Linked DNA regions of Homo sapiens: regions 1 and 2 are each linked to region 3. Evidence: fine-mapped expression QTL. A gene starts in region 3. Each other region holds a variant in brackets. All regions are shown on one strand. Distances are from middle to middle.

The links. PIP is the estimated chance that this variant, and not a neighbour inherited with it, causes the effect.
Region 1: its variant is the best candidate, but not a certain one, in a credible set for the expression of CD82 in whole blood (TOPMed, PIP 0.81).
Region 2: its variant is the best candidate, but not a certain one, in a credible set for the expression of CD82 in blood mononuclear cells (TOPMed, PIP 0.86).

The regions. Positions count from the first base shown.
Region 1 is chr11:44,607,589-44,618,276 of GRCh38, reverse strand. CD82 (CD82 molecule) reads right to left here. Exons shown (of 10, transcript NM_002231.4): 7 at 2,904-3,005; 8 at 1-115. Among named protein-coding and RNA genes, the nearest start is that of CD82-AS1, 7.6 kb to the right of the region's middle. RefSeq lists enhancers at 1,511-1,860, 8,704-8,873, 8,877-9,377 and silencers at 6,042-6,091, 6,162-6,241. The variant T/C (reference allele first, on the strand shown) is at 3,679.
Region 2 is chr11:44,589,973-44,600,660 of GRCh38, reverse strand. It overlaps CD82 (CD82 molecule), which reads right to left. Exons shown (of 10, transcript NM_002231.4): 3 at 5,936-6,018; 4 at 431-503. The coding sequence starts at 5,998. Among named protein-coding and RNA genes, the nearest start is that of CD82-AS1, 10 kb to the left of the region's middle. RefSeq lists enhancers at 1,290-1,790, 1,791-2,291, 3,617-3,856, 3,280-3,859, 3,860-4,438. The variant G/A (reference allele first, on the strand shown) is at 4,020.
Region 3 is chr11:44,561,164-44,571,307 of GRCh38, reverse strand. CD82 (CD82 molecule) reads right to left here and starts at 5,645. Exons shown (of 10, transcript NM_002231.4): 1 at 5,572-5,645. RefSeq lists enhancers at 1,831-2,020, 2,201-2,250, 4,557-4,626, 5,132-5,632, 8,472-8,971 and 1 more and a silencer at 5,547-6,146.

The DNA.
Region 1 (10,688 bases), 47 kb before region 3:
TGTTGTCCTCTTCCCCCTTGACTTCGCAGGAACAGGGGTAGGTGACCTCAGGGCGATTCATGAGCTCAGCGTTGTCTGTCCAGTTGTAGAAGCTGACCCAGCCGCAGCACTTCACCTGGGCAAGGCAGGGGACAGACTGCTTGTGCTCACGGCTCACCCTAGGCAGGCTGCCCTCCTGGCAGAGGGAGGACCTCCCCAGGACAGAGACTGAGATATGCCACTTCCAGGCCCCTGGTCCCAGCCGAACCATCATAAACTACAAGTACAGCAGAAAAATCAAAACCAGGACCAGCAAAAATACAAAGCAGAGTAGGAAGGAAGTTCAAGTTGAAGGAGCGCAGGTGTGCAGGGCACAAGGAGAATGGACGGCAGACAGTTCACAGTGCAGGGTTTAAAGTCAGGCTACTGGGTTACAATCCCAGCCCTGCCGCCTACCAGCTGAGCAACCTCCATCAAGGAACTAGCCTCAGTTTCCTCATCTGTAAATGGGGATAATTAAAATCCCCAACTCACAGGGCTATCACAAGGACTAAATGGGATGAGGCAGGCAAAGTACCAAGCATAGGTGTGGGGAGCACAATAAGCTTAGGAAAGGCCGTTCAACTTTAGTGCAGGAGTTGAGATTTGCCTCTGAGCTTCCTGGTGAAAAGGAAAAAAAGTGAAAAGTGAAAAAGGAGACGGGGTCAATTCCGCCTTTTTTTTTTTTTTTTTTTTTTCTGAGACAGAGTCTTGCTCAGTCACCCAGGCTGGAGTGCAGCAGCGTGATCTTGGCTCACTGCAACCTCCACCTCCAGGGTTCAAACGATTCTCCTGCTTCAGCCTCCTGAGTAGCTGGGATTACAGGCACTCGCCATCACGCCCGGCTAATGTTTGTATTTTTAGTAGAGACGGGGTTTCACCATGTTGGCCAGGCTGGTCTTGACCTCCTGACCTCAAGTGATCCGCCCGCCTCGGCCTCCCAAAGTGCTGGGATTACAGGTGTGAGCCACCTTGGCTAGCTGGTCAATTCTGCCATTTTAAAGGAGAAAATGCTCTAGTTCTAGAGAGAAGAAAGCCTTTCCGGGCTCTGTGTGCTAAAGGAGGTCTCTGTGTGTGAATCCCCGCAATGCTGGGGGTTCCTGGGAGGATTCAATGGGATAGCCACGGTCACAGCAGGGGTCAGTTCCTGGACCGCTTCCTTCCTAGCTCCGAGGGGTGTCGCCTGACCAGTAGCCAGTGGCCAGCAGGGGGCGTGCCAGGCACACTCAGAAATGCTCAGCTCCAGGCAGTTTCTAATCCAGGTTTACAGGTGCTTGTTCCAGCAGCCGGGCTGCCTCCTCTCTCCAAGAAAAGGCTGGCACCTCTGAGGGGTGCACAGGTCTGCAAGGCTGGGGGCACCCACAGGCCATCCTACACCAGAGCAAAATGAGGCAGGTCTCCTTGGCCCGTCTACGACAGAGCCTCCTTCCAAGCAACCCCTTGGCCTGACTCCGGCTGTACCTGGTCCCCAGCAGCACACGCCACCTCCGCCTGTGTCTCCATGGATGTGCATGGTGACTAAAACATCACCACCAACATACCACATAATAAATGCTGCCTAAGTGCTTCAGGCTTTAACAATGTATCTCACACGGCATGGGTCAGTAGCCCCATTGTATAGATGAGGAAGCAGGCTCAGCAAAGGTCTAGCGGCTGTGGCAGTGTTAGCACTCCAGGCCTTGGGAGTCTGACTTACCACCGGCCTAAGCAGCATCTGACAGCATCAGAATCATCTAGAACCAGCCAATGACTTTCCAGGGTAGGATGCTTACCACCTCCCAAGGGACCCACTTCTCCTCCCAGGTCCCTTGTCAGGTGGCACTGGTTTATGTCACTGGTGACATCCAGACTTTGCTAAAATTAGCAAAGTCTCAGCAATTGTGGGTCAAACTACATATGCGACCAAAACATTTCCTTGTGTGCACCAAGCCTTCCAGCTGCCACAACCCCCACACCTGATCTCCTCGGTCAGGGCCAGAAAACATCGCTCTCCCCTTCCTCCACTGAGAAAATGGCCATGTCCATGTCACCTAGATGGAGTGTCCTCTCTGCAAACTCTCCTGGTGCCGCTGAGTCAGGCTTTCTCCTGCTGCCCATGCCCTTTGTACTCCACATCCCTCCCCTGAGGTGTCAACAGGCCCTAAGTGACCACTGTGTCCTGCGCCCTCACAGGATTGCAGATCAGAGATGTCAGGTCCCAGCCAAGGGCACATGCAGCATCCGGGACCACAAGAAAGGAGAGCCAGGTGGTCATTGGATCACTATTGAGACAGGCTGGGAACCTGGTCAGTCTATCTGTTGGTCAGTCGGTCAGTCCGTCCGTCCATCTGTCCACCCATCCATCCATCCATCTCTCTCACTTTAATGGAGGTATAATACACATGAACTAATGGGCACACATTCAGCTTGGTGCATTTTTACGTATGTGCACATACTGGCGAAACCAGTATCAAGATTTGGCTAAAATACTCCTTTTGCCCTAGAAGGCTCCCCAACACCTCCCCAGCTAGTGCCCTTCCCCAGAGGCAGCCTTCACTGGGACTTCTCAGCATATCAGCCTTGGCTCCCAGTTTCCTAAAACCCAGAGTGGAGCTCCCAACGCTCCCCAGTGTAGCTTGAGATAAGAGGGCTGACAACTGCCCCCATGCTCTCTGGCCACAAATGGGAGCACAGAGCTGTGAAGCTGCCTCTGAGTCTCTGGGCCCCCTGAGCAGGGAGTTGTGGTGCTAACTGGGGTGCCCTGCCCCCATAGAAGCACACTCTCCTACAAACTGTCAGGCACACACGAGCACTGCAGATGCCAGTCCCAGACATGTGGGTGCACAGAGCCCCAAATGCAGGGACACCCAGGCCAGAGAGCCTCCTGCAGCCCCGCCCCACCTCACCTGAGCCTGCACGTAGTCCCAGGCATCCTGCAGGCTGTCCTCGCGACTGCTGTTGTAGTCTCGAATGAGCTCAGTCACGATGCCGCCCATCTCCTGCTTCAGCTGCAGGGGGGAGGACAAAGGTCAGGGTCAGATTTCCTGAAACCCGTGCCCACCTGTGGTCACCCCTACTTAAACTGCCTCCCCCCGTTCCCCTCAGCAACCCTGGGACACGCTCATGGCTCCAGCCACTTTCCTGGCGCTCCCAGGGTGCCCGATGCAGGCAGTGCCAACCACTCCTGCCCCACTATCTCTTCTGCGCTTGGCAGCAGCCTGGCCCTGTAAACATCAATATTCTCATGTCACTGCTGAAAACCCCGTAGGGGCCTCCCACCTCCAGGGCAGTTCCCACCGTCATTGTCCCCATAACAGCCTAGGAGGTCCTACACCACTTGTCTGCCTCCCCAGGCCTTCTGTCCTCTGTTCTTCCTCCCTCTGCTTCAACTGACTAGATTTCTGTGCTGTCTTTGTGCCAGGCACACTCCTGCCTTGGGGCCTTTGCACCTGCTGTTCCCACCGCCTGGAATGCTCTTCCCCTAGACATTAACATGGCTCACCCTCTGCTTCCTTCAGGGCTCTGCTCCAATGTCACCTCCTCAGAAAGGCCTTACCAGACCACTCTACAAAATATCAGCCCTTCCCCATCCCCTCTCCCCCAACCAATCAACCACCCCTCCCCGGCCTCCCTTATCCCACAAGGGAAAGCATGCTGTATTTCTCTTTAGAGCACTGACGT[T/C]ACATGCTTGTTGGTTTTCAGGGCTTATCATCTCTCTCCACTAGCACATCAGCTCCGTGGGGGCAGGGACCACATCTGGCACGCTCACTACAGGGTCCCCCGTGGCTAGCGCCAAGCCTGGCACAGAATAGTTGTGTGGGGTACGTGAATGCTGAATGCACACCTAACCACCATGGTCTGCCAGGCACCAGAGCCAGACCCATGCAACTTCTTGGTGAATCCTTACACCTCCCACAGGGCAGCTTCAGGGAGAAGGAGGGACAGGGAGGAAAGCCCAGCTCAGTTTCCTTCTTCCAAGGACCAGAGTGCAGCCTCTCCAAACAGGGCCCCCAAGACAGCAGGGTAGATGCCTGGAGGGGGCCCCAAGACTGAGGGACCTGGAACTTCGGTATCAACTATATGGTCAAAAGATCCTCCCTCTATGTAGTCATGGTGGTGGGTGCCCGTAATCCCAGCTACTCAGGAGGCTGAGGCAGGAGAATTGCTTGAACCCAGGAGATGGAGGTTACAGTGAGTCGAGATCGCACCACTGCACTCCAGCCTGGGCGACAGAGTAAGAGTCCATCTCAAAAAACAAAAAACAAAAACAACAACAAAAACAACAACAACAAAAAACAAAACAGAAAAGATCCTCCCTCACCCCTTCCCAAGCCCCAAGCCAGCAGTGCCAGCCAGCCGGAGTGTGAGGTCAGTTGCCTTTCTGGGACCTGGCTACTTGCCCCAGAGCTCCAAAAACATCTCACTTTTTTTTTTTTGTTTTGCTTTGTTTTGTTTTTTTGAGACAGGGTCTCCCTGTCACCCAGGCTAGAGGGCAGTGGCAGGATCTCAGTTCACTGCAACTTCTGCCTCCTGGGGTTAAGCAATCCTCTCACTTCAGCCTCCCAGGTAGCTGGGGCTACAGGCATGAGTCACCATGCCCGGCTAATTTTTGTATTTTTAGCAGGGACAGGGTCTCGCCATGTTGCCCGGGCTGGTCTCGAACTCCTGACCTCAAGTGATCCACCCAGCCCAGCCTCCCAATGTGCTGGGATTACAGGCCTGAGACACCTCGCCTGGCCCAAATCTACATCTTGCCTATGCTGGTCCTCACCCTGCTCAGGAATTAAGGGTTCCTTCTTGTGGTGGAGAGCAGCACCTGCTCTCAGCTAACCCCACAGAGAAAACACTGATTTACAAAGCAGGCAGAGAAGGGGTTTCTAAATAAGTCAGTTGTGCAAAAGGAGGCAAACCCAGAGCCCGCTGAGGGCAGGGCCTCCCTCGGCGATAAGCAGGCCTGGGTGGGAGGGGAGCCTCCGAGAGCCAGCCCCTGCCTGGCTCCACCTAGCCTCTCACATGGACCTTGCCCAGAGACCTTTCAGGGCAAATGCATGGTTGGACTGGTCAAGGCAGTGGGGGCGAGGGACCCTAGAAGGCAGGGATGCCAAGGAGAAGGCCACACACCTTCCCACCTCGGTTCCTGAGAAGGAAGAATTGGGAGAAATGAGACAGGTACTTCCAGGTGGGGTTTCAGAGCCTGACTCCCAGGGAACCCTGTTGGTGGAGCTTCCAGCAGCTCCCCATGGGCAGTCCTTGAATGAACGCTGTGCTCAGAGAACCCATATCCTGCAGATGGACCTGCAGCCCTGGCTCCTCACCCAGCTCCCTTGGTTAAATTAATGCTGGGGCTGGCCATGGTGGCTCACGTATGTAATTCCAGCACTTTGGGAGGCCAAGGTGGGCAGATTACGAGCTCAGGAGATCGAGACCATCCTGGCTAACATGGTGAAACTCCATCTCTACTAAAAAAAAATACCAAAAATTAGCTGGGTGTGAATGGCAGGTGCCTGTAGTCCCAGCTACTCGCGAGACTGAGACAGAAGAATCGCTTGAACCCGAGAGGTGGAGGTTGCAGTGAGCCGAGATCACGCCACTGCACTCCAGCCTGGGCGACAGAGCCAGACTCCATCTCAAAAAAAAAAAAAAAAAAAAAAAAAAATTAATGCTGGGAAACCAGCCTCTGATGACGCTCCCTGCCCTTCTCTCAATAAAGCTCTCAGCATGATATTTAAAAAAAAAAAAAAAAAGCCCTTATACAGAGTTCTGCAATTTACAAAGCTTTCCTGTCAGTAATTAATCCCAACACTAATAGTGGCTAACTTTTATCAAATGTTTGTTATGTACCTGGTGCTGTGGTAAGCACTTTAAATGTATTATCTCAACTGAATCTTCACAGCAGACCTATGGCCTAGGTATTCACCCCATTCCCTCATTATAGAGATGCAGAAAACAAACCCAGAGAGGTTAATTAACTTGCCCAAAGTCACACAGCCAACATGCGGAAGAAGTGAGGTTTGCACACAGGCTTGGCTGATTTCAGAACCCAGGTTTTTACCTATTAAGCTTTATTGGCATTTAAACCACACGGCTATACCCAGTTTTAACCAGGGCCCAGAAAAGCTAAGTGGTTTGCCTGAGTCACATAGCTGGGGCTGTCTGCCAGGTGATCTGACATCTCGGGTCCACCTCTCAACCCCAGTGGGTGGGTGATCCCCACGGTGTGGAAAGGAGGGGCTCTCTAGAAGCATCTGTGCGGAAAGCTGCCTCTCCCACATCCTTCCCCACCCACCCAGCTTCCTCACAACATGTTGCACTGAGGCTCTGTTTAAACCCCAGCGTGGTTGTCACAGCAGCCTGGACTTCCCTGTTTCTCTCCCAGCCTCCCTGAAATGAGAAGGTGATGGAAGCTGGGTGGTTTCCACCTAGATGGGTGGTTTCCATGGAAACACCACAACATCTTTCAGTCCAGAATGTGGTTGAGGGACACACCTGGGCCACGGGGACCATGGCCACAGGGGCTGGTTCAGCTTGGAGCTGATGCTCAGGAGGCCTGTGCTGGGAGTGCAGGGAGGTCACCCTGGCAACCAGGTAGCTACTGAGACAAAAAGGACAGGGAGGTAGCAGGAGAAGACATTCATGAGCTCCCTCCATCCCCCCAGGGACCGCTCCATTGTTTCTGCCTGCCCTGCAGAAACCCACTCCTTGGATGTAACCACCCTTCTATTTCTCCATGGAGCTGAGGAGGCCCCACTCCCTCGATGCCAGAAGCAGGCAAAAGACCTGGGCTGCCACTCAGTGCCATCCACATCACAGGCACGGCGAGTGGTTCAGAGATGGGCTTGAGACCCATGCTCACATACCCGGCCCTCTTTCCATCAATGTGGTAGGATGAGGACCTGGGCTACCCTCAGGCTCCACTGGGGACAGCCTGCCCGAGAAGGGAGCCAACAGAGGAGGGTAGGGCTGAAGGGTGAATAGGGACAGCAGCAGCCTTTGGGATCCAGCTGAGCCTTCTGCTGGCTCTGGCTACTTTCAGTTGAGTCACTGTCACATGCCATAAAGAGTCCTGCCCAGGGCCAGCTGCATAATTTACACCTAGTGCAAAGCAAAAATGCAGGGCCCCTTGTTTAAAAATTATTAAGAATTTCAGCTGGGCGTGGTGGCTCACACGTGTAATCCCAACACTTTGGGAGGCCGAAATGGGCAGATCACTTGAGGTCAGGAGTTCGAGTTCAGTCTGGCCAACATGGTGAAACCCCATCTCTACTAAAAACACAAAAATTAGCTGGGCCTGGTGGTGTGTGCCTGTAGTCCCAGCTACTTGGGAGGCTGAGGCAGGAGGATCACCTGAGCCCAGAAAGTGGAGGTTGCAGTGGGCCGAGATCATCCCACTGCACTCCAGCCTGGGCAACAGAGCAAGACTCTATCTCAAAAAGAAAAGAAAAAAAAAAGAATTTCAATACAGCAACAGCAGATTATCCTGTGTGACTGCATAGGTTGAATGCCGAGGAAGCCAGCCCTGTCTTCCCTGTCTCCCTCCTCCCCATTTCTCAGAAGAGAAAAATGAGGCTCAGAGTTGGAGCAACTTCCCAAGATCACATAGATAGAAAGCAGCAGAGACATGACCAGACCTTGATCTGTGCAGCTCCAGGGACCCGGGATCTTAGCCTCGGCAAGCTGCCCAGGGCCTCCCCATGACCCTGCTGTCCTCTGCATGGCTCTACTCACGTCCCACCCAAATGCTGAGCTTTGACTTCTCTTTTAGTGTGAATTTTCACAGAGTCAGAGTTAGGAGAGACCTTTGCGTCCAGCAAATCATCCAAATGTAAGAGTCATGCTTTTTTAGGCTCTGCTTAAATGCTCCCTGCGATGGGGAAGTCAGTACCTCACACAATAGCATGTTGCGGAGTTGAGAGGCTCTGATACAATTTAAGTTCTGCTCAAATGACTTCTACCCACTTGTATTAGTTCACATCCTCCTCCTCTCTCAGCTACCCAAGTCCCAGCTAGGACCACAGGAACAAATCAAATCCCTCTCTCGAAGGACACATGTCATCCAGATACTTGAGACTAGACTACATCTCCAGGGTAACTTTTCGGGCTCCTGTGCCCGCCCCTTGGGGTGCTGTGCAGACCTCTTGCCATGCTCTTTAAGGTGTGAAATAGCCCCTTATAATAAGGTATAAATGCATGAATTGGACCCACATCTTCCTGTCCTCTCCAGGTTTCCCACATGAGATGTTGGCAAATGCTTTGCTAGAATACAGATACACCAGCTCAGAGGCTGCATCCCAGTACCCTGATAGGAAATGAGGGCGCTTCCTGCATCTTTTCTGCAAGTCCAGCTGCAATCCACGTAATTAGCTACCCCAGAATGCAGAGCCAGTGACCAGCGTGTGCTTCAGAGATTCTAGCCCAAGTGTCTTTCCATAATCCCTTTCCAGAGGGGTAGCCTGGACTCCTCCATTCCCTTCTCAACAGGGGAGAGAAAGGTCACCTCTCCCTGTCCCAGGCTCCAGCTGCTCTTCCTCCCTCTGCCCCATCGCAAGAGAACCCCAAGCCAGAGAATCAGGAAGTTCTAATTCAGCAAGCAGACAGTTCACAGAGAACCACACTGTCCCCTAGGAACCCGTCTCGCCACCTGTGTCTCACACATGAGGGTATGTGCGCACCAACAATTTGGGGCTTTCAGGGTGAGAGCAAGGAGGACAAGAAGGAAGTCACAGTTCCCCTGACCAACATCTCTGGGGAGTTGTCTGGCCAGCCACTGCCACTGTCACAGCCCCCACCTCTGGCTCCCAGCCAGGCCAAGTGAGCCCCTTCCCCTCCAATGTCTTCTGCTTGAGCGTGACAGCACTCAGAGCCTCAGGGGCCTCCCTGGCACAGGTATGGCCTGCCAAGTGCACCCAGCTCAGCACCCACACACCACAGGAAAGGGCAAACTGCATTCACTTCCTTCTCACTCCTCCCACCTCCACTCTCTAGAGAGAACAAGTCAGAATCCCTGACTGCCTGCACTGGGCATGGCCCAAGAGCTCGCCTGTGGATCAGAGAGTCTGGGTAACTTATCCGAAGCCACACAGCAATCAGCGGCAGAGCCCACACTAAAACACAGGGCCCCTGAATCCCAGGGCTGGGCTCTGCTCACCAGAGGCTGGATAAACAAGCAGATGAGGATCTTAGCACCGTGCCCAGATCCCCATTCCCGCAGCCCTTGCTCTGCTGACAACGAGGGCAGCAGGAACAGCTGCCACCTATTGAGCCCTTACCAGGCCTTCATGAAGTGAATAATGGCGGCAATAATAATAAACACTGGCAATGATGCCAGCAACATCAGCCTCCGGCTGAGTGCCGCACGACGCCCTTCCCGTTTGTTAGTGCTCTTCATCTCTGAAGTGCTGCAAGGCAGCCCCTGGGGGCTCCGGCTCGAGACAGGATCAGATTTTAGAAAGGGCCTGGAGGGACAGATCACACCCACTAGTGGGGGCTGGGGCAGCAGCCTGCAGTGAGTCTCATTTCTATTTCCCTAGGGACACCCGAATGGGGCAGGCAAAGGCCATACATAGCCTTGCTTCTGTTCAGGTTCAATTTTGCCACCAAATTAGTTGCAAATGCTACTTTTGGTTTTTAAAGTGTTTCTTTGGATTTCAGAATTGCAGAGAAGGGACAGTGGGCCTATATTGTTACTAGTTTGACAAATGTGGAAACTGAGGCACAGGGAGGCTGAGTAGCATGCCCAGAATGTCAGAGCAGTGGTTCCACAGTCAAGACCCTTGGACACCATTCTGCATTTTCACAGAAGTGTCACAGTCTGTGTTCACTTCAACCTGAGTGGTAGAGCAGGGAGAGGCAGATTTATTCTCAATTTATAGAAGCAGAACCCAAGGCTCCAGAGGTGACAGGCCATGCCAAGGTCCCCAACCTCCCCATCGCTGCCCTGAGAAGAGTGGCTGCGGGTGACAGAGGCAGGAAGGACAGAGGGCAGCCCTGGAGACCACAGCAGGGTCACTCCCACCCACCTGCACGGGAGCCCTATCTCCTTTCAAAAGGCCTTTCTTTTCCTTAGGTTCAAACAAGTCCCACCCCCACGCTGAGCCTTGTCTGCCAGAATAAACACATCAAGAGTATGTTTAGTCTTCCACTGAGATTTATGATGCGTTGCGAAAGAAAAAAATATATTGTTCATTCCAATTCGGGCGATACAGTGGCACCAGAACTTCTTCAGCAAAGCCAGAAAATTTCCCCCTGCCTTCCAGAAAAGATGGTGGTGGACTAAGGTGAGGCAGGCTGGGACTAGGGGGTGTGGACTCTGAAGGGGAAGACAGGGGCAGGGGGTGCAATGCACAGAGCTTGGCTGGGGTCGAGAAACCCAAATCTCCAAACAAGTCCTGTTCTGGGGCTGATAGGACACCTCTGAGGCTAAGCTCCTCATTATCAGCCAAGCAGAGTTACCCAGCCGGCGGGAGGGCAGCGTGGTGGATAGGGAGGCATGGGCCTTGGACTCCAAGGCATCAGGATGGAAATCCCCACTCTGATGCATCCAAGCTGTGTGTGTCAGTGGCTGAAAGTCACTTTGCTTTCCTGGGCCTCAGTTTCTTCAAATGGAAAATGTTTGTAAATTTGAACATGTATTGCAGCTCACTTTTCTAGCTCAGCTCCTGGCATGTGGTTGGTGCCAACCTGGTGGGCCATAT
Region 2 (10,688 bases), 29 kb before region 3:
TTATAGCGAAGCACCACTCATAGCAGGTGCCTCATCAGCCCCTGACTATCTTTCCTACATCCCTGTGAAATGGGAGGGGCTGTTGCCTACATTCTGCTGGATGGGCAAGTGACGGGACAGAGAATGTAAGAGGCTTTCCTAAGGTCAGGGCCAAGGGAAGGGGCCAGGAAGGGAAAACAAGCCTCCCTCATCCCCAGTGTTCCCCCAGACAACAGCAGCTTTGTTCGGGGAAGAAGAGAAAATTCCTTTTGGAAACCCCTGCAGAGGGAGCCATGGGCAGTGGTGGGCAGCAGGACCTCGCCACATCCCTGAGGTCAGCGGGAAAAGCAACAGGCATTGAAGCCGAAGCACTTATGGGAGCAGCTGTATCTGCGCCCTGGCCCTCCCCTCTTCAGTGGGCCTGGGTCTGGGGAAGCTGAGGGGTCCTTACGCAGGACAGAGATGAAACTGCTCTTGTCGGCCAGGATCCACACCCCGAAGCCCAGGATCACTGCGCCCAGGATCTGGAAGGAGAAGGGAGCAGTTAATGGGGAGCCAAGAGCAGATAGCCCTCCCCCTGCCAGCTGTCCCTGGAACCCAAGTCAGGGTGGGCAGGGCAGGGGGCCACAGAGGGCACCACATCCACCCTTCTCCAGCCCAGAGATGTCCAGATGGCCTCCGGTCCCACATCGCAGCAAGCCAGACACCAGGACCCTGGATAGGGAATCCCTCCTGCCTCCCATCTTGCCCCCCTCCACCATGTGTGATTCAGCCAAGCCTCCTGGTGCAGCCTCCTGCCAGGGGCACCCTTCCTGCCACATCTCCTGGCTCTTTTCTCAGCTCATCCCCCCGACTCCACCCAGTTCAGGGCCTGGGAGCTTCCCAAACAAGAAAGGCTCTGAGGAGGACCCTCCGTGGACTTGAACATCAAAGCCCAACTCATCCCCAGGTCTGAACAACAGGGTCACCTGCCACAGGAGCCTTCTCTGACCCCCTCAGGCAGACTCGGGTGCCCCCATTCTGCAGCAACCACTGTCCCACCCTTCTTAACAGTCATTCCGACTGGGTCTAACTGCTGTGTTGGTTTCTCTGGCTAAACTGTGAGCTCCCTGAGGGCAGGGCTGGCTGGAGGCAGCTCTGCATCCCCAGCAGCTCTACAGCACTGGGTGCTAAGTGGCTGGGGGAATGAATGAGCTGATGAACCAAACTGCAAATGCAGGACTAGAAAGGGAAATGAAGGTCAGGCCCGGTGGTTCATGCCTGTAATCCCAACACTTTGTGAGGCCCAGGCAGGAGGATCACTTGAGCCCAGGAGTTTGAGACCAGCCTGGGCAACACAGTGAGACCTTGACTCTACAAAAAATTTCAAAAATTAGCCAATGTGGTGGTGCATGCCTGTAGTCCCAGCTACTGGGGAAGCTGAGAAGAGAGGATCACTTGGCCCCAGGGAAGTCAAGGCTGCAGTGAACTGTGTTCATGACATGACCTGGGTGACAGGGCAAGACCCCCTCACTCTGCCCCCCACAAAAAGGAAAAAATGAATGAGGTGTTACAAATAAGGATCCCAAGCCCAGGGATTCCCTGCCTCTCTCCCATCTACCAGGGCTGAGCTCATCTCCCCAGGTGGAGTCCCAGCCAAGATCCACCATCCCATAAAGCTGGCAAAGGCTGGGGAAGTGCCTGCCATCTGGGCAAAGATGCAGGTTCCCTTTGGAGGTGGGGGTGGCCCTGTGTCAACCCACAAGGCTGGCCATTAGTGGGGGCCTGGACTGGGCCCACCTGGTGGATGACCCGTCTTGAAACTCCCACCTGTATCACAGCCCTGGGTTCCCACCTCAGCCATCATCCCATAATCTCAGGTTGGAGGCCAGCAGCTGCCATAGAGCCCCGAGCCTGGGGCTGGCCTGGGCACAGGGTCTCCATCAGAATCATTCTATCATTATCAAAGACCAGAGCCAGGACCGGCCCAAGGCACGAGGCACCTGCCTCAGGTGTAACACATGAGGAGGCACCAAAAACTCAGGCGGGTAGATCACCTGAGGTCAGGAGTTTGAGACCAGCCTGGCCAACATGGCAAAACCCCGTCTGCACTAAAAATACAATTAGCTGGGCGTGTTGATGGGGTCCTGTAATCCCAGCTACTCAGGAGGCTGAGGCAGGAGAATCACTTGAACTCAGGAAGCGGCGGTGGCAGTGAGCCAAGGTCACGCCACTGCACTCCAGACTGGACAACAAGAGTGAGACTCCGTCTCAAAAAAAAAAAAAAAAAAAAAAAAAAAAATTAAGGCCAAAAATCCATGATAACTGAACTATTAAACTTTGAAATAAAATGTTGACAGTATCAGTATTATCAATGTTTCCTTTTGCCCCAGGGCCCAGGTGGCTCAGTAGGGGGTTGCCTCTCTCCCTTTACCCTTGTACTTGCTACCTTAAAGACCACTGTGACTGATGACTACAACCACAAAGGCACGGTGACCACCCCACGTCTGCCCCCCAGTGTCTCCCACCAGAATCATCACTGAGGTATTATCTGTCCTCTCCTCTCTCCCAGTGAGACGGGCCTTGTAATTGACCTCATTTTATACACACGGAATTTTATATGAGGCCTTGATTTTATCCATCAGGGACTGGAAGCCAGATGGTGGCAGGTGAGCTATAGGGATATTTTGGATCCATCCTGGGCCTTCACCCAGAAAGCCAGTCTCGGGACAGAAAAGCCCCTGAGACACTGGGGAGGAGAAGAGTCTGCTGGAAGGTGGGTCCACCTTAATTTGCACAGCTGGGGGAAATGGGGGCTTTCCAGGACCTGGGAGTTTGGTTCCCCAAGACCTGCAACCCTACCCAGCCCACAACCACCCCACAGCACAGCGAGGCAGGGGCCAGTGCTCAGGCCCACGTCTGCTCCCTCTGCATCTCAGACCCATGTGGGCAGAGCCCCTGCCCCATTCCCTCCCACATTCACAGGGTGGGACAGGAGGGAGGACAGCCCCTACCAAAAGGGAATGGGAGGCAGGACAGAAAATCCCCTCTTGGCACACATAATCCCAAGTAGATCAAAACCCCACACTACTCAGCTGGCTCCTCAGCTTGCCAAGAGGAACCCAGAGAGCAAAGTCCCCGGGGCTACCCATTCAGTCCCTCTGTAGGTCTGATGACCCCAGCCTGATGGTCAGATGTGGCTGGATTAGCCACGGGGCTGTGGCAGAGCCAGAAAGGAGGCTGGGCAGCCTACCAGAATGGGCAAGGCACCATGGCACCCCCTTTTTCTCTGTGAACCAAGACTGGAGCTGTGGGGCAGGCCCCATGTTAATCACTCCCCCAGCCCTTCCCCAATCCCCAGATGGGACCCATCAGGAGCCAGGACCCTCAGAGCAGTGAGCGTCCTTCCCCAGCATAGCCACAGCACCAGTGCCTCTGCATTCCTTTGGACCTGAGAAAAGTGGCAATGCGCTGGGGAGTCTGGAGTCCAGAGGGAGTACAGGCAAAGACATACAGGTGCACATGCACGCAGGCGCGAGCACACATAGCAGCCACGGGGATTTTTCCAAACCACAAATCCAACCACGAAACCCCTCCCAATGTGCATAAAACAAAGAGGCAGGCTGGCCGGGTCTATGCCTGGGGAGGTGCACTCTGCCTCCACCGGCTGCCCCTGCTGCCAGGATCCCCCTCTCCAAAGCCACACCCAGAACCCCAGGAAGCCTTTGCTGACCTCCATGACCAGGCCAAGAGCCTCATCTGCTTTCCGAAGAGCCTATCTGTTCCTAGTACCCCCAACAACTGCAATTTTTCATGCATTTGAGTAGTTATTTGATGGAAGCCCACTGCTCCCTAGGACACAAGCTCCGGAAGTATAGCAATCAGGGCTCTTCCGCCCTGAACATCTGAAGATGCTGAGGTGTCAGATACACATTTGCTGAGGAGTAAACAAGCCCGTTCTGCCTCCTCCAGCCCTCCTCTTTCACTCTCACCCTCCTGTCATACAAGCTGCCCCTCCCCCCTCCACCATCCTGATGGGTCATCCTAGGCCCCAGTACACA[G/A]ACAGTTAACACCTGACTCCTGCCAGCCCCTGGAGGAGCCAAAAGGAGGCCAAGCCCTGGCCAGAGAGCAGCTTTTCCAGTCCCTGGTTCCACAGGGCAACTTGCGAGCAGGACAGAAAGGGCCACCCTGGCTGAAACCACCAACCCCACTCCCTTTCTCTATGAGGGTCTCCCCAACCCCCACTGCATGAAGGAAAGTTTCTTTATCACTGAAACCCAAGCTCCGTGATCTCCTAGGCCAGAGCCCAGGCTCCTCTCTCTAGTCCCTAAAGCCCCCAGGGATAGAGCTACAGTGCCCACGCACCCCTTCCCCCGAGTCCTGGCCCATTGGCCTTTATGCTGGGTCTCCGCCCAGACACCAAGTGCTTGCCAGGAAAAGCTTGGCTTTGCCTGCACAGGCAGCTGCTTCCCAAAGTCCTAGGGCAGCCAGGAGAGACCTGACCGCCAAGCTGGGGAAGCCCAAGCCCGGCCTGGGGTGGGTTCCAGGCCCGGCTGCCATGAGCAGAGGGCCAGAGCCACAGTGGGGCCTCACAGGGTCCTCCAGGAGGGAGCTAGGGCCGGGGCCAGGGTGGAAAAAAAGCAAGGCAGGCAGCGCCAGGGCTTCCTGTGTGTGTGCATGCGTGTATGAACACTTGTGTGCGGGTGCCAGGAACACATTGTACATGTCTGTGCATTGGGTTAAAGCTGTGAAGGGGGAATTTTTAAAATTCTTTTTTTTTTTTTTTTTTTTTTTGTAGAGAAACAGGGTCTTGCTATGTTGCCCAAGCTGGTCTAGAACTCCTGGACTCAAACAATCCTCCTGCCTTGGCCTCCCAAAGCACTGGGATTACAGGCAAGACCTACCATGTCTGGCCAGAAGGGGAATTTAGAATGATTCTTGTTTATTTCCCAAACTTCCCATAAACTATGTAACTTGTAATGTAAACCCCCTGTTCCCCAAACAAGTAATTAATATCTACCGTAGAAAATTGGGAAAATACAGAGATGCATAAAGAATAAAATCAAAATTCCCAAGAATCCCAACATTAACATTGAGGTATTTTCTTCTCCTCTCAAAAATACTCACTTTTTAATGAATACGTACATTTAAAACTTTGGATCATAAGAAACATCCTACTGTACAACCTGATTTTTTTTTAACACTATAGGGTTAAACCGTCAACACAGGGAAGCCAGCGCTCCCAACACTACTCTGAGGCTATGAAGTCCTCTCCAGGGCACTGCCCCCCAACAACACACTCTCACTCACACACACACCCCACCATCCCAGCAACTCCAAGGCAAGAGGCAGTCCATGCCAGGCCAGAGAGGAAAACCGAGGCCCCAGGAAAACCAGCAGTCAATGTCCACAGAGCTGACATCCGGATGGCCCATCTGCTGGGGTGGGTCTGGGGAAGGAGGTATGTGCCCTTCACTGGCCCCACGCCTGGCGCCCTCTTGCTCTCCCTATGAGAGCTCAGGGAGATACCTTCCCACGACAGGGACGGGGGTGTGATAGGGGCAACTGGGGCCTGGAACTGTCACAGGTCAATTCTTCACATGGGCAGGGTGGGGGCCAGGACAGGACTAGAGAGATGCTAAGAGGCTTCTTCTAGCAGCTCCTGCTGTTGAGTTAGGGGGATGCCCAGGGGCTCTCCTCTCCTTCCCCATACCCACCGCCAGCCCAGGCTTTGGGTGATCTAGGAGAGGGGAAGGCCGGGTCAGGAATCCAGTGCTTGGTCAAAGGACCAGCTGGGAATGGCAGGGAATCTCCTCACCACCCCAACTAGGTTCCGTTGGAGATAGTTCGTCCTCAGTCCCTACCCACCAAATCCCCCCAATCCCCGGCCCGGTCGGCTCTGGAAAGGCTCAGGCTGGGATGCCCCTGGAAGGAGAATCTTTTCGGAGGTGGTCAGGACGGCATGGGACATACTTACAAAGAAGATCAAGTTGAAGAGGAAGAGAAAGTATTTGGTGACTTTGATACAGGCTGAGCCCATCCCGCCAGTCCTGGAGCTTCCTGGAAGAGAGAAGGCAGGCAGGCCAGTGAGGGGATCAGCTCAGTCTGCCCTTGCAGCAACCCCAGGAGGTGGGTACTAACCCTGTCCCTGCCTTAGAGGATGCAGAGGCCCAGAGAGGTTAGACAACTAGCCCAAAGCCACACAGCTAGGAAATGAGGTCCCACGAGCAGTCTTGTGTGCCAGGCACTTGATGCTTGGCAGTTAGGATCCGGATCAGCCACTGCACTGGGGCTGGGGCTGGGGCTGGGGCTGGTGGGAGCAAAATGACAGAGGGAGACCCTCACCCCTCACCTCCATGACCCAGGCTCTGGAACTTGCACAGATGGACTCTGTTTGAAGTCAGGGGGCCGGGAAGTTAGTGATCCATTGACAGAGACCCAGAGGTGAGACCTGTGCTTGTTCCACAGACTCCCTCTGGGACTAGGGGCTGGGAGTTGTGGGGTCTGCCAAGGCGAGAAGGGGAATTTTGGCTTCTCAGAAAATAGGCTGAGCGTCCCAGCTTCTTATTACAAAGGGAATAAACATGCATTGTAGAACACCCAACAAATACAGAAAAACAGAAATCAAGCAAAATGTATCTCACTCCAGAGATTAAAAACTGTCATCGTTTTAGTAGCTATTATTCGTGTGTGTGTGTGTGTGTGTGTATAACAAATGGTTCTAATCAAAATTGGGCTCATTCTGTATAGTGTTTTCTAGCCTGTTTTTTTCATTCTACAATCTTCACTCTCTATATGTTGATAAAATGCTCTTCATAGTTTCACATGTTGCATAGGATTCCATCCTATTAGTACTTATTAACATTTGGGGGCTCACAGAGTCCCCCAAAAAATTCATGTGTAGTTAGCATTTTGTGATGCTAATAATTTCTGGGAGTTCATGGACCTCTGAAACCCATTCAGGAACCCCAGTGGCCCCAGGTTAAAGTCTCAGATGTGGCCATCCCATAAAAGCATTTAACTGATACTCTAAGATTGGACACACAGGTTGTTTCCAAGTTTTCACAGTCTCCCCGATGACACAAGTTGTGCTTCTGAAATGACACAAACCATGCTTGGGCATGCTGTGCCCCCTCCACTCCAAAAGACCCCAGGTGAGGGGAGGGCCCCGGGAGGAAGAGGGAAGCTGGAAGCTGACTGTTCTCACCCTGACTCAGAGGCCAGAAAATCCAGGAGTGCCAGCCGCCAGCCTTCAGACCCTTTGGGGCAAAGGGAGCCAGCACCGCCGGGCAGCTGGGGCCTGGACAGCTGGCCTGGGACAGCTGCATGGGCAGAGCTGGGCTGGGGGGGTGGAGGGGACGGCACCAGGCCCACTTGTGTTTCCCTGCCTTATGGAGGGGGAAGGGCAGGCCACAGAGCAAAGGGAAAGGAAAGCCGGAGGCCCGGGCTTCACTCCTTCTTCCTCCAGCACCACTTGAAAGTCTTCAATTTCCCCGGCTACACACAGGTTCCCTACTCTTTTCTGGACATGCTAACGATCAACAATCTTCCATCCTCCTTGTCAAGTGGGAGCTCAGCTTCCACTTCACACACCTCCGGTGATGGGGAAGGTGGCTAATGAGGAGGGTTCATGACCTCCCAAGGGGTCCAGTCCAGTTTTCTTTCCTCTAACAGCTTTGTTACAGGAAGTTTTCTTTAAGTGCCTTTTTAAAGGGCAGATTTGGGAGGTATAATATGAAGCAAAGCTGCCCAAGTTAGGAAAAAGCTGCCTGGGTGGTAGTGAGCTTCCCATCACAAGCGGCATGGAAGCAAAGTCTAAAAAAATACTCCTGGGGGATTTAAGTGCTATGTAGGGAGATTAGACTAAATGGCTCTTCCAGTCTAGGGGGCTCCAAGGCCTGGGTCTGAGAATTGCAGAGATGGCAGTGACTCGGGAGCCAGGGCAGTGCAACCTGGGCAACTCCCCAGACCTAGAGAGGAGAAAACATGACTTCCCCGTGCCCAGGAAGCCAGAGATCTTCAATGCCCAAACCCCGTCCTGGCCTAGGAAGGCCTCCTGGGAGTCTGCACTACATCAAGGATAGCTATTGTTTTTCCTCTCTCTCACCTCCCAGCACAGAGCCTGACATACCACAGGCACTTCACAGACTCCAGGAACTAAACAGCAAGAGAAGAGAGATTCTCTCCCAAAGCCAGGCGGCATCTGTTCTTCTTTCCTACCACGGATCTGCTGTGTTTCAGCCTGACCAGGTCTCCTCCCAGTAAACAATACGGGGCATGCCCCAAGAGACCAACCAGGTTCAGCGCCCAAGCAGCAGTAGCTAGGCCACCCCTTCACCAGAAGAACATCCACTAACTGCAGTCCGCCAACAAACTATGCGTCTTGGCAATGGGGCCATTGGCATCCTTGTGAAATTGCAGAAGTGTGGAAAGAGTTCTTTGGCAACCCTGAGTCAGATCCACGGTGTTGCAGTTTCAGAAAGTCCGGGAAAGGGGTTTCTACACTTTCCAGCTCACACATCCTCTGCTCAGCCTCACGGTGGGGCATTCAGCAAAGGGCAGCTTTTAGAAAAGAATAAGTATAGGCCGGGCACGGTATCTCATGCCTGTAATCCCAGCACTTTGGGAGGCCGAGACTGGCAGAAGACCTGAGGTCAGGAGTTCGAGACCAGCCTGGCCAACATGGTGAAACCCCATCTCTACTAAAAATACAAAATTAGCCAGGCGTGGGGGTGGGTGCCTGTAATCCCAGCTACTCAGGAGGCTGAGGCACAAGAATCGCTTGAACCCAGGAGGTGGAGGTTGCAGTGAGCTGAGATTGCGCCACTGCACTCCAGCCTGGGCAACAGAGACTTTGTCTCAAAAAAAATAAAAACAAAAATAAGAGTAAGTATGACGTCTGTAAGGAGAAGGAGTGGCCGCCAGGGAATAGCAACTACTACAAGTGGCCATGTTCAGACATCATCCCCCATCATCCTCACAACCAGCCCAGGAAGTGAGTATTCCTATCCCTGGCAGACCAGAGGCTCAGACAGGTTCAGTAACTTGCCCAAGTCACACAGGTCATAAGTGGCAGTGGTTTTCAGACCCCAAGATCTTTCTTCTGTGAAGTGGTCCCTCCTGGACAGTAGCCAGGATTATAAAGGGATCTTTGGGGACGGCTGGGTTTCCTTTGTCCAGTTAGGTGTGAGGACAAAATGACTGCTCAGAGGAGCTCTGCTCAGAGGGCAAGGAGGAGGCTGGGAAACCTTGTCACCAAGGCAGACGTGGCTGGGCTGGTATTCCCATGATATTCCAGACCCTGGGCAAGCTTGGCTGGTCCCTTGGTCACGCACACAGATTGTATCAGGCACTGGGCTAAGCTCTTCAGCCCTCTACATGCAAACAGAGGCACAGAGGGGAGAAGGAGCCTGCCCAAGGTCTCAAGTAGGAGGACTGGCAAGGACAGGGCCCAGGCTGCCTGGCCCCTTACACCACCCATGGGCTCCATCCCACACAGGAGGCAGCTGGGTGGGTCCAGAGGCTGAAATGAGAGCCAGGCAGCCCAGTCAAGTGGGACAGACCCAGAGGTATCTGGACATCACCCGAGGGAGGAGAAGGTGCTGATAACTGGAACCTGGGATGGGCAGCTCCCAGGCACACTGGCCAAGATCCAGAAGACAAAGTCTTCCTGCCCTGCAAGTGCAGATGCTTCTGCCTCAAACTGACAGGGAGCAGAGGGTGAAGAACATTCTCCACACTCAGCGGGAGATGGGCAATCCCACACAGGCAAGGAAGTCAGCTCAGCCTGAGGCGGGGACACACCCAGGTCACCCACGATGGGCTGTGGCATCAACTTCAAGGAATCCACAACCACCACCAAGCTCCAAGGAGCCCCCGAGGTTGAATTCAGAGTGCCAGGGGTTATGCCCGGCTCTGCCCTCCCATACTGAGAGCTGAGCCTCAGTCTGCCATCCATGAGACAGAAATAAGGGTTGGTGTGGAACCAGGGTTGGTAAACTGCAGCCTGCAGACCAAATCCAGCCCCCTGCCTGTTTTTTATACAGCTTCTGAGCTAAGAACAGATTTCATCTTTTTTTTTTTTTTTTTTTTGAGACAGAATCTCCCTCTGTTGCCCAGGCTGGAGGGCAGAGGCACAATCTTGGCTCACTGCAAGCTCCGCCTCCTGGGTTCACGCCATTCTCCTGCCTCAGCCTCCCAAGTAGCTGGGACTACAGGCGCCCGCCACCATGCCTGAATAATTTTGTTTTTGTATTTTTAGTAGAGACGGGTTTCACTGTGTTAGCCAGGATGGTCTCGATCTCCTGACCTCGTGATCCACCTGCCTCGGCCTCCTAAAGTGCTGGGATTACAGACGTGAGCCACTGTGCCCGGCCCAGATTTCATATTTTTAAATAGTTAAAAGAAAAATAAAAAGATTCTTTAATGCATGAAAATTACATGGAATCTAAATTTCTGCACACAGCCATGCCTACTGGTCTATCTGGCCCTTTACAGAAAAAGCCTGCTGGCCCCTGGTGTAGAGGATCAAATGGCGCACCCACAAGTGTCTGTAAGAGGCAGCAAGGGTCGCCAGGCGCGGTGGCTCACACCTGTAATCCCAGCACTTTGGGAGGCTGAGGCAGGCAGATCACGAGGTGAGGAGATCGAGACCATCCTGACTAATACGGTGAAACCCTGTCTCTACTAAAAATACAAAAAATTAGCCAGGCGTGGTGGCGGGCGCCTGT
Region 3 (10,144 bases):
TCCCCACTCCCCCAGGCCCAAGCCCAGCTGGGACTCAGGAAGGCTTCTGGAACACTTGCTGCCTAAAAGGAAGAAAACCTGCCTAGAAGTCACCTCTCTGGCCAAGGTCATGCTGTAGCTCCATGGCAGAGCCAGGATTTGAACCCGGGCTTCCTAATGCCCAACTACCAGGGCATTGTTCACTTCTCCACATTGACACTGAGAGCCAAGGCCCAGAACTCTGAACAACTCCCACACCAGATCACCCTTCCACACAGCAGGGAAAGTCAAGTTGCGGGGTGGGGCGGCGGAGAAGAGGCAAAAGCTTCTGCTGCAGGGTAGGAGGTCAGAGGGGAGAGTGGGGCTTCCCAGAGCTGCCCACCTGGGGGTCTGCATGGATGATGTCCAGGATGGGCTTCCTGGAGGCCACCGTCCCATTTCTCCAGGCCCCAGCTTGAGTCCCCACAGGATAGCAGCACCTTCCACAAACAATTGTTGACTCCAAGATGCTCTTTCTGGCTGAGTCAGAGTTCACTAAAGGCCAGAGTGGCCCCTTCCTGGGTTAGGACTGAAGGAAGTCATGCTGTTCCCCTCTCAGGAGGGTAATAAAGGCCAGGCATCGGAAGAGAAGCAGAAGCTCTGCTGAAAGCAATTCCAGGACAGACGGTGCATTCCCATCTCCCTGGATCCAGGTTGCAGAAGTGCGGCCCACAGGCCTGAAGCACCAGGCAGTGGCATCCAGGTCCTGCTTCCCGGCTCCACTTTGCCAAGGAGTCACCTGGTATGTGGTACCAAGCTAGGTACTGCTGATACCCCCGGCCTCACCCAAGAGAACCACTAACCTATTCATTCAGTCATCGATCCCCAAGTGCCTGCTGTATGCCAGGAATCAGAGATACAGACAGGACAGGGCAGTGCCTGCCCAGGAGAGCTCATGGAAACACATCATACACCACAAAGTGGCAGGATCAAAGAGGAGGGTACACAGTGTAGACAAGCACAGAGGAGAAGGTGAAGGGCAATGAGGGGCTTGGGAAAGGCAGCCAAGCACAGAGGAGAAGGTGAAGGGCAATGAGGGGCTTGGGAAAGGCAGCCAGAGATGTTCAGACCTACTGCCCCTCAGGAAGCTGAGCGTCACAGTGAGGAGACCCAGCCACCCCCAGGAAGAGCCAGAGAGCCCCACATAGCCAGACATGACTGGCGTCTTGGGGCACACACATATTGGAGAGGCACAGAGGCCCTGTGCAGAAGGAAGGTGTTCTGGGAGTGTCCCTGGGGGCCTGAGAAGGAGCCTGGCACCAGCCTTGAAAGACCAACCAGATACAGCAAACAACAATGGCTCTCCTTTATTGAGCATTTACTATGTGCTAGGTATAACAATACTAAGCATTTCATGTGCACTTTTTTGTCTTCTCCTCATGACCTATGAAGTCATGACCATTATTATCCCCATTTGCAGGTTCAAAAACTGAGGCTCAGAAAGAGTCACGTAGCCAGAAATTGGCAGGGCCGAGATCTCAACTCTAAAGTCCAGTGCTTTACCGCCATGCTGTACCATCATCTCCCTAATCTGTTAACAGGCAGAAAGAAGATAAAGGTGCTTCAGGTGGGGGAAACAAGGTAAAAATAGGGAGGTAGGATCAAGTGCTCTTTGAGGGGAGCTGCCCAGCTCCTCTGTGTTGGGGTTGTATTTGTGTGTGTGCGCATGCCTGAGTATGGGTGGGTGTTCACAGACATGCCCTACTTTGCAAAGGATAGATCCCAGGTCCCAGAACTCCCCGAGAGCCAAGGAAAGAATGGGGCATCAGCAAGTCAGGGAAGGAATCCCAGAGAGAAGGAACTTATCTAAGGTCACACAACATACACACAGCAGAGCAGCAGCCAACTCCAAGGACCAGAACACAGGTCTCTTTCCTCCATCAGCTGCCTGTCCATGTCAGCACAGTGAATCAGCTGCTGACAGGAAAACCACAGTGGAAGGGGAAGCCCGGGGGTGAGTCAGGAACCAGCCAGCCTCCGAGAGACACCAGCTGGGCCTGTTGCAGAGGCCCCGGGTCTGTGGTTGTCTGCCTCTTCTTAGGGCAGCATCAGGGGCGAGGGGAGCAACACATCCCACACCACTCACTCCATGTTTACCTCTGGGCTTCCCCTCCCAGCTCCTCAGACCCCGGCTTAGTGGAGGGGAAGCGGGTGGGTAGGGCAGTTCCTGCTGAGATTAAACGGGTCCTGTCCCACAGAGGGGCCCAGGCCAAACAGTCCAGGCTCTTCCCTCCCTTCCCACCTCTCACAGAGCCAGCTCCTGGCCGTTTGATGTTCTTGATTAAGTCATAACCGCCCCCTGTGAGCTTCCCATGGGGCAGAGGAAGTGGGTATAACGGTTTGGAGCAGAAGGCCAAGGCCAAGGTCAAGCCAGAATCAGGGGTGCCAGCTGGCCCCAGATGCTCCGAATCTGAAACAACACTCAGAACTTGGGGCTGCTCAGCCATGGGTTGAGGGAGGACTGTCTGGTCCTTAGGGGAACAGGTTTGGGTCCCCAGGGTGGAAGGGGATGGCCGGTGGGAGCTTCCAGGCTGTGGCTCTAAAGCGTGAGGCCTCAAGACAGAGGGGGCCGCCCCCACATAGCGGAAACTTCAGAGGAGCCCAGGGAAGCCAAAATCCTGCCCCAGTCCCCCTACTGTGGGAAACTTGTGCCCTGACTGCTCACCCACTGCCAGAGATAGCACATGGCTGACCTCTCACCCCTATCCTCCCTGGGCTGGGATGGGAGGGAGGGATCAGCAGGCACTTCTTCTAACCATCCCGCCCCCGACCCCCAAACTTACTGCTGGCTGGCACAGGCTCCCACCTTTCGGCCCAGATGCCTCCCCTTCATGGGCAAACCCCTCTGTAGCATTCATCACCCTCCCAGCAACCCCGCCACTCACCCAATCCAGCCACCTTCCTGAGACCCTGCTATGTACCAGACAGGATAGGGAGGAGAAAGAAGTGCAAATGTGCTGGAACAGTCCCCTCCCACCCCTCCAATGGTGCCTTTGCTCTCCCTGTGGCTGGTGTCTCTTCCTTCACTCCCAGTTGCAGACATCCCCAAAGCCACCCAGACCCCTTCTTCCCAGTCACTGCAGCCATTGGTTCATTATCCCTTGACCGCTGGATCCTCCACCCCAGCACATCTGGTACAGACTGACTTTCCTAAAGTGCTGCTCTGTTGTGTCACTCCTCTCCTCAGAAACCTTCAGTGGCTCCCACTTTCTGCAAATCAGATCCAAAGTTCTTATCCTGTCATTCAAGGCCCTCCGTAAGCTGATCCCACCTACTATTCCCACTGCATATCCCCACACGTTCCCAAACTTCAGCCAGAATGAGCAACCTAGAGGTTTCTCGAGAATTCTCAGGACAGGTTGACCTCCCTGCCTCTGCCTAGGCATTTTCCTCTCCTCAAGACACTATCTTCATTCTGGCTGCCGAAATCTTCCCAGTCTGTAAGGCCCTGAAGATCCCTCTAATCCTTTTTTCATTTATCTTCCATCAGAGTCCCTGGTATTCTTGTGTAAGCCCCTTCCCGGATGGTAAGCAACCTGAGGGTGCAGGCCTTATGTGGTCGCTTGTCATTCATCGAGCAGGAAGTGGGGGTGGTGGTGGGGAGGGCTTTCCATTAAGGCTCACTAGGTAGGCTCTGTTGAAATGAACGTCTCCTCCTCCCCACCTCAGGCACCACCTACCAGACCCTCTCCCTCCCCACCATACCAAACTCCAATTTATGCCACTTCAGTGCTTGAAGAGACTGTGGTCCCATGTTGATCCAAGCCAAACCAGGACCAGGAGCCCAGAGAGAAAGTCCTATTCAAGTCTCACCCCCTCCAGGAAGCCTCCTTACCCCCACCCCCTGCCCTGGCTTCTCAAGTGTCTCACTCTTCTGAACACCTCCCCCTGCCCTACATACACACACAGTCTCCTGCACACAGCGCAGCCGCCAGTCCGTCTCTGTCCCACAGCACTTTCCAGTTTGTTCCATACTGTACAGCTTATCTCCCAGAAGATGCAGGGAGCCAATATAATGCAGCACCTTCAGCGTCCTTCAGTGTCCAACCCTGCTTAGATATCGGGTGCCCACATTGCCCCTCGCCCCCATCCCAAGCCAAGTGTGCAATGGTATAGCTGGATTCCAGCCACCAGGGCAGAACAGACCCATGAAATCTCATCTGGTTATAAGCCCTGGGTGTGACTGATCCTCTCTACAGGGACATGGTAGGGATGGGGGAGCCCTCATTGTCAGCAACTCAGGCCTGGCTAGTTCACCTCTGTATCCTCTAGCTCTCTCTAGCATATAGTAGGTGCTCAGTAAACATTTTTAGACTTATTTAACTCAACACTTACCAACCTCAAGCAACATTACAGAAAACTCAGCCACTCTTTGTTCCAGATGACACAGTCCTCATCCCTCAAATAGAGTGATGTTGGTGGCAGGTGGCAATTTCTGGCTTTCACAAGGTCAGGAGGGGCTGTAGCCAACCCCATCTCTCCAAGAAAAAAAAAAGGCTCATTCCCCATAGGAAGCAAGCCCATCACCTGCCCACCCGCATCAAAGCAGCTGTCACAGAGGGAGGTCTCACTGGTTTCCTGGCACCTTGCTAAGTAGTGTATACACATTATTCTATTTAGTGCTTGCTCCTGCTATTGGATATTGTCATTATCCCCATTTTACAGGTGAGGAAACTGAAGTTTGGAGGGGGAATGGAATCCAAATCAGTTTGATCCCAAAGCCCAAGCCTTGACCACAGAACTATGCTGCCCCGCTACTGGGGCCCAGCACAGAGCACCCACCACCTCCAGGAACAGAACCCGTCAGCCAAGAAATTAACCCCGGGTATGCTTCAAGGGCCCCTGGGGCCCTGGGCTTGACCCTGGGCCCAAGGATTGGTGGGGTTTTCCCTTCTCTTCCCCACTCACCAGTGTAAGAACTGTTCCCCAGTTTCCAACCTCCTGCTCAGGCCAGCTCACCTGGAAAAGCCCCACTGAGTTTCCAACTTGAAGTCTTAGGGGGTCCGGCTCAGTTGAACTGTTAGAATTGGTGGGAAGCAGGTGAGGCGGGAAATGGAACCTCCCTGCTTTGGCCTCCTCTTCCCCAGGGTTGGTGGGTTCGAGCCCCAACCGAGGAAACAGTGCACTCTTTAAAGCAATTCGCTTCTCTCAGTCCCATTTTGCAGGGAGAGAAACTGCAGAGGGCAACGCGATGGGAACACCTGTGGCGACCTGCAGCCTGCTCTCACCTGCCAGCTCTCACCTTCCGGCGTTTTAAGTGAGAAAGGGCAACGGGAGCGTGGAATTCACCTGGTTCACTTCCTCCTGCTGGAACCCGGGAGGTCCAGAGCCAGGTAGAGGGACGGACCCAGGATCACGCAGCTGTGCACGGCCGAGTGTGAGAACTGGGGGTTCAGGACTGGTGGCTAAAGCTCCTTTTCACCCACCAGCTGCCCCGACCTGTCACTAGTTCCGAGGAAAGTTGTCCGAGCCGGACCGCAGAAGCGGGGGCTAAAACTAACTTTGCCTATGGTTGTCCGGCAGGCTACCCCGGCCCGCTGCCCCCTTGCTCACCTGCGGGTTCTGCTTTCTGCTCCGCGCTGCAGGCCCAGCGTCACCCGCTCGTGCCTCAGTCGGCGTCGGACTGCACAGCCCGGGGCTCAGTCACTCCTCGGCCCCCTCCCGGCTGCAGCCGGGGAACGCCGCGGACTCGGCAGGCCCCGCCCCCAGAAGACACGCCCCCTCCGCCGGCCCCGCCCCCGAGCCCTTTGGGAAGGCGGTGCGCTCCCGCCGGCCAGGCCCCGCCCACTATGGCCGTACCCCAACCAGCCTCGCCCCCGGGCCCAGCTGGAGCTGAGGCCCCGCCCCGCTACGGAGTCTCTCCTCTATCCCGGCAGCCCCGCCCCCAGGTTACACTGGGGATTAAGCCCGCCCCGCTCCAGCCCTGTCCACTCACGGCGCTGCCTAACGGTCCCGCCCAGCTCCCGCCTACCTCGTCCTCCCGGTCTCCTCCCGGGCCCTCCCAGCGCCCCCGCCTCCTTCACTTTCTCCTTCGAGCCCACCCCATCCCCCGGCCCTAGTAGGGTGAGGCCACGCCCCTCCCCGCACCAGCCTGGGCTCAGCGCCTTCCTAATCCTGCCCTGCCCTGCCCCTCTCATCTCGGGCGGGTAGCCCTGGGGCCCCCACGCTGGCATTCCAGGGCGGGTGTATCCGGGTGCCGCCGGGGAACGGCGTGGGAGCGGTTTGTGTCCTAAGTCGGGGCCTCTATCAGGAGGCGGCCTGGGCCCAGGAACTTTTTGAAAATACTGACTACCATTGATTGAATCCTTGCCAGGGGCCAGGCTCTATGCCAAGCGCTGAATACAGTTCTAGCCCTTGAATTCCCACAACTCATGGGTACTCTCGTTGCGCCTATTTTACTAATGCGCAGTTTAAGGCTCAGAGAAGGGAAGTCGAGGGCTCTGAATCTCATGGAGGCGGGCGTGAGCGGGATCCAGCCTCAGGTCCTGAGTCACAGGCTTGAGCTGCCCCAGCTTGCCTGGACTGGCCCCTGGGGAAGTAGCCCAGAACAACCAGTGCTGGGGCAGTGCCCAGCAGCTGCCTGAGGTGAGGGAGGAGGTGTGGGTTGATGAGAATAGTGGCAGGAGGGGCTGTGGGCCTAAGCCCTCAAAGCTGGCTTTCTCCCTGAAGAAAAAGTGGCCCAAAATTGAGGTGGGCTGCAAGAGCTCTCTAGGTGGCTGCGGTGCCCACCCTGCGTCCCAGCCCTCTGCCCTCCCAGGCTCCAGAGGACTAGCCTCAGGCAGATTACCTGGTTAATGACCAGGGGCATTCACCTGTGCAGCTGACAAAGCTCTTTCACTTCCATTATCACAATGTCCTCTCACAACACACCGTTGTGGGAGGGTATGATTATGAGCGCTTTGTACGAGTGGAGTAAGGGCGGGAGCTGGATCCCAGCCCAGCACTGTAGTTCTCACAGCGTGGTCCTTGAACCAGGAGCAACATCATCTGGGAACTTGTTAGGAGTGCGTATTTTGAAGCCCCATCCCAACTTACTGAATGGAAAACTGTGGGACAATTGGTTTTAATAAGGCCTCCAGGTGATTCTGAATCACATTCAAGCATGAACCACTGTTGAGCAAACTGTAAAGAAGTCAGGGTGGTCTGAGAATCACACAGACCTAGGTAGCTTCCTGGTTGCGTTTTAAACCCAGGACAAGGCAAGATACTTAACCTCTGGGATGAGCCCTTAAACAGGGAATAATAATAAAATGAGCCATAACAATCATACCGATCTTGATGGTAGCTGTTGAAGATTACATGTGACAGCATTCATAAAGTATTTGGCCCACCGCTTGAATGCCGTACATGCTCAGAAAATGTTCTCTTTTCAGCAAAAAGTCTCCTTCATAGCATTCCCACACCAAGTCAGAAAAGTGAGGCTGGAGAATCCTTTAAACCCAGCAGTGTGTCATACCCGCAGAGAGACACCCTCTATCCTGCAAGTGGTTAAGATCCTAACAAGCTCCTAGATGATGTGGATGCTGGTCCGGGGACCACACTTTGAGAACCACTGTGCCATTCTGTCTTGGGCTGGGTTTCAGATCCCTACCCTACCCAGCCCATGCAAAATGGGCATAAAATTCCTCCTATTCCACCCTACTCCACACCCCGCTCCCTCCGAGCTGGGGGTGTTTGTGATGGTGTATGGCAGATGCTCCTGACAGCAATAACTTGACTTAAGCATACCCTGAGAATGGTCCTGTATGGCAGATGCACCCCAATGTGTGTTTGGAGTTTTGAGCTAAGGAATCCGGGAATGACCAACCTGGAGATTCATTCCTTATCTGTGAGGAACATTTGAACCCCGGCCCATCCTGTGGAATGCAGGGTGTACAGGGGTTCAAAGCTCTTTGTTTGGGGCCAAATGAAGGTTATCAGGTGGGGGTTGTTAGGGGGAGGGTGCTAAGTGAGAGTGATGTATAAACTGCATGCTTTTTGTAAGCGGTTGTGGCTCTCCTGCCCAGCCTGCCATGGGACTGTACAGTTCTCCTGTCCAGCCCACTGCCACCGGCCGTCCCTGTGTGTAAGTTTCCCAATAAAACCCCATGTCCCAGTTGCTGGCTCTGGTCTCTCCTTCAGCCTCTTGAACCTAGTACCATCCCTACTGAAGTTAATAGGGCTCCAGCAGACAGATGGGAACTGGCCATTGGCAAAACAGCTGGATCCCCTCACTGTCCCCTCCCCCCATGAAGACATTCTCTCATATTAGTCCCATCTGCTATCCCTTGCTGCCCTGCCACTCCTGATTAGAGATAGAGGCAGCTGTGGTGACATTGAGAGCAGTCTTCAGGCAGCTTCTAGAATCTCTGCCATACTCCCTGTCATTGTCTGAGTCCCACAGAAGAGTGTCTCCCTGTAGGAGTGCAGGGCCTGGGCACTGGTCCTGTTATGCTGACCTGCCCGAACATGGAGAGCCCAAGTTAAGAGTGCAAATCAAGGACCAGATACCTTGTATCTAAACATTTAACTGACTGTGAAATAAAATGTGTATTCTCCTGCCTTGACAAATGTTCTTTCTAATGACCAGGAAGACCATGTTCAAATTTAGCATTCTTGGACTCTTTAGAATTTTATGCAAGAACATGGCAGTGCGGGAGGATAGCCTGGCCCTAGCCCTCAGCCCACCCACTCCACTTCTCTTCACACTCCATCTCTGTCTTGTGTCACAAGTGGCCTAGGACTCAGGCATGTGGATACTCCAGCCCACACACCCAAACTTTGCCCACACGCCTTGCCTACAGCCACCTCTTCGTCACCTCTCTATGAATGCACATTCCAGGGACAGGATGTACCCTCAGGAGGATGGACCTGGGCAGGCAGCTTTGTAAACCTTAAAACTGGCTGGGGGGCTGAGCACAGTGGCTCACACCTGAAATCCCAGCCCTTTGGGAGGCTGAGGCAGGAGGATTAAAGAGCTCAGGGGCTCAAGACCAGCCTGGGCAACAGGATGAAACCCTGTCTCTACAAAAACTACAAAAATTAGCTGGGTGTGGTGGCGTGTGCCTGTGGTCCCAGCTACTCGGGAGGCTGAGGTGGGAGGATCGCTTGAGCCAGGGAGGCGGAGGTTGCGGTAAGCTGAGATTGCACCACTGCACTCCAGCTGGGCAACAGAGCAAGACCCTGTCTCAAAAAACAAAACAAAACAAAACAAAACAAAACAAAACAAAACAAAAAAACTGGCTTGGGCTGGATAGGCAGTCTAGGTTTTTAAACACCCAAAGCATGATCAAGGTCAGGTGTGGGCTCTGGGTGGCCACAGGTGCCCTCTTGTCCAGGTCTATGGTGACATTGCCATTTGGCCTTGTCTCCCCAGCTTCTAGCACATGCCTGGAAGCTTAAGGGACAGTTGTTGAGTAGATGTGCATCTGAGTCTAACTTAGTCCATTTTCTGTTGCTATAACACAATACCATAGGCTGGGTAATCGATAAAAGAATTTTATTTTGTATAGTTCTGCAGCCTGGGAATTCCAAGGTTGAGAGGCTACATCTGGTGAAAGCCTTCTTACTGACTCATCACATGGTGAGAGGGCAAGGGCATGCCACCGCAGGTCTCTCTTCATCCTATTATAAAGCTACCAGTCCTCATCATGAGGGCCCCATCCTGATGACCTTATCTAATCCTCCCAAAGGCCCTACCCCCAAATACCATCAACATATGAATTTGGGGATTCAGTTTCCAATACATTCAAACCATAGCAGAGTCATTCACTGAAATATCACATTGGGTTGGCTCCCTCAGCATTGTCCCTATCCCCTCTCTTCCAGCAGAAGGCAAGCTTTGTCATGACTCACCTTGGGCATTTTGCCAGGCAGAAAGCGCAGACACTTCTAGTGAGACTCTACCTCTAGTCCATTCTAGAGGTGGAGCCAGGAGTTCTGGAGGTGGGAAAAGGGGTGAGAAGAACCACCCTAGAAAGCCTTGAGAGAAGATATCCATGGCCAACTTGGAGATGGGGAAGACGGTGGTGTGGCAAGACCTCAGAGAGGTATGGCTATAGGATTGCCAGGCTCTCAGAAGATTCCCCCACCCCAAAGGTGGAAGATGAACAGCTGAGCAGGAGACTTCAAAGAACTTGTAGGCAAG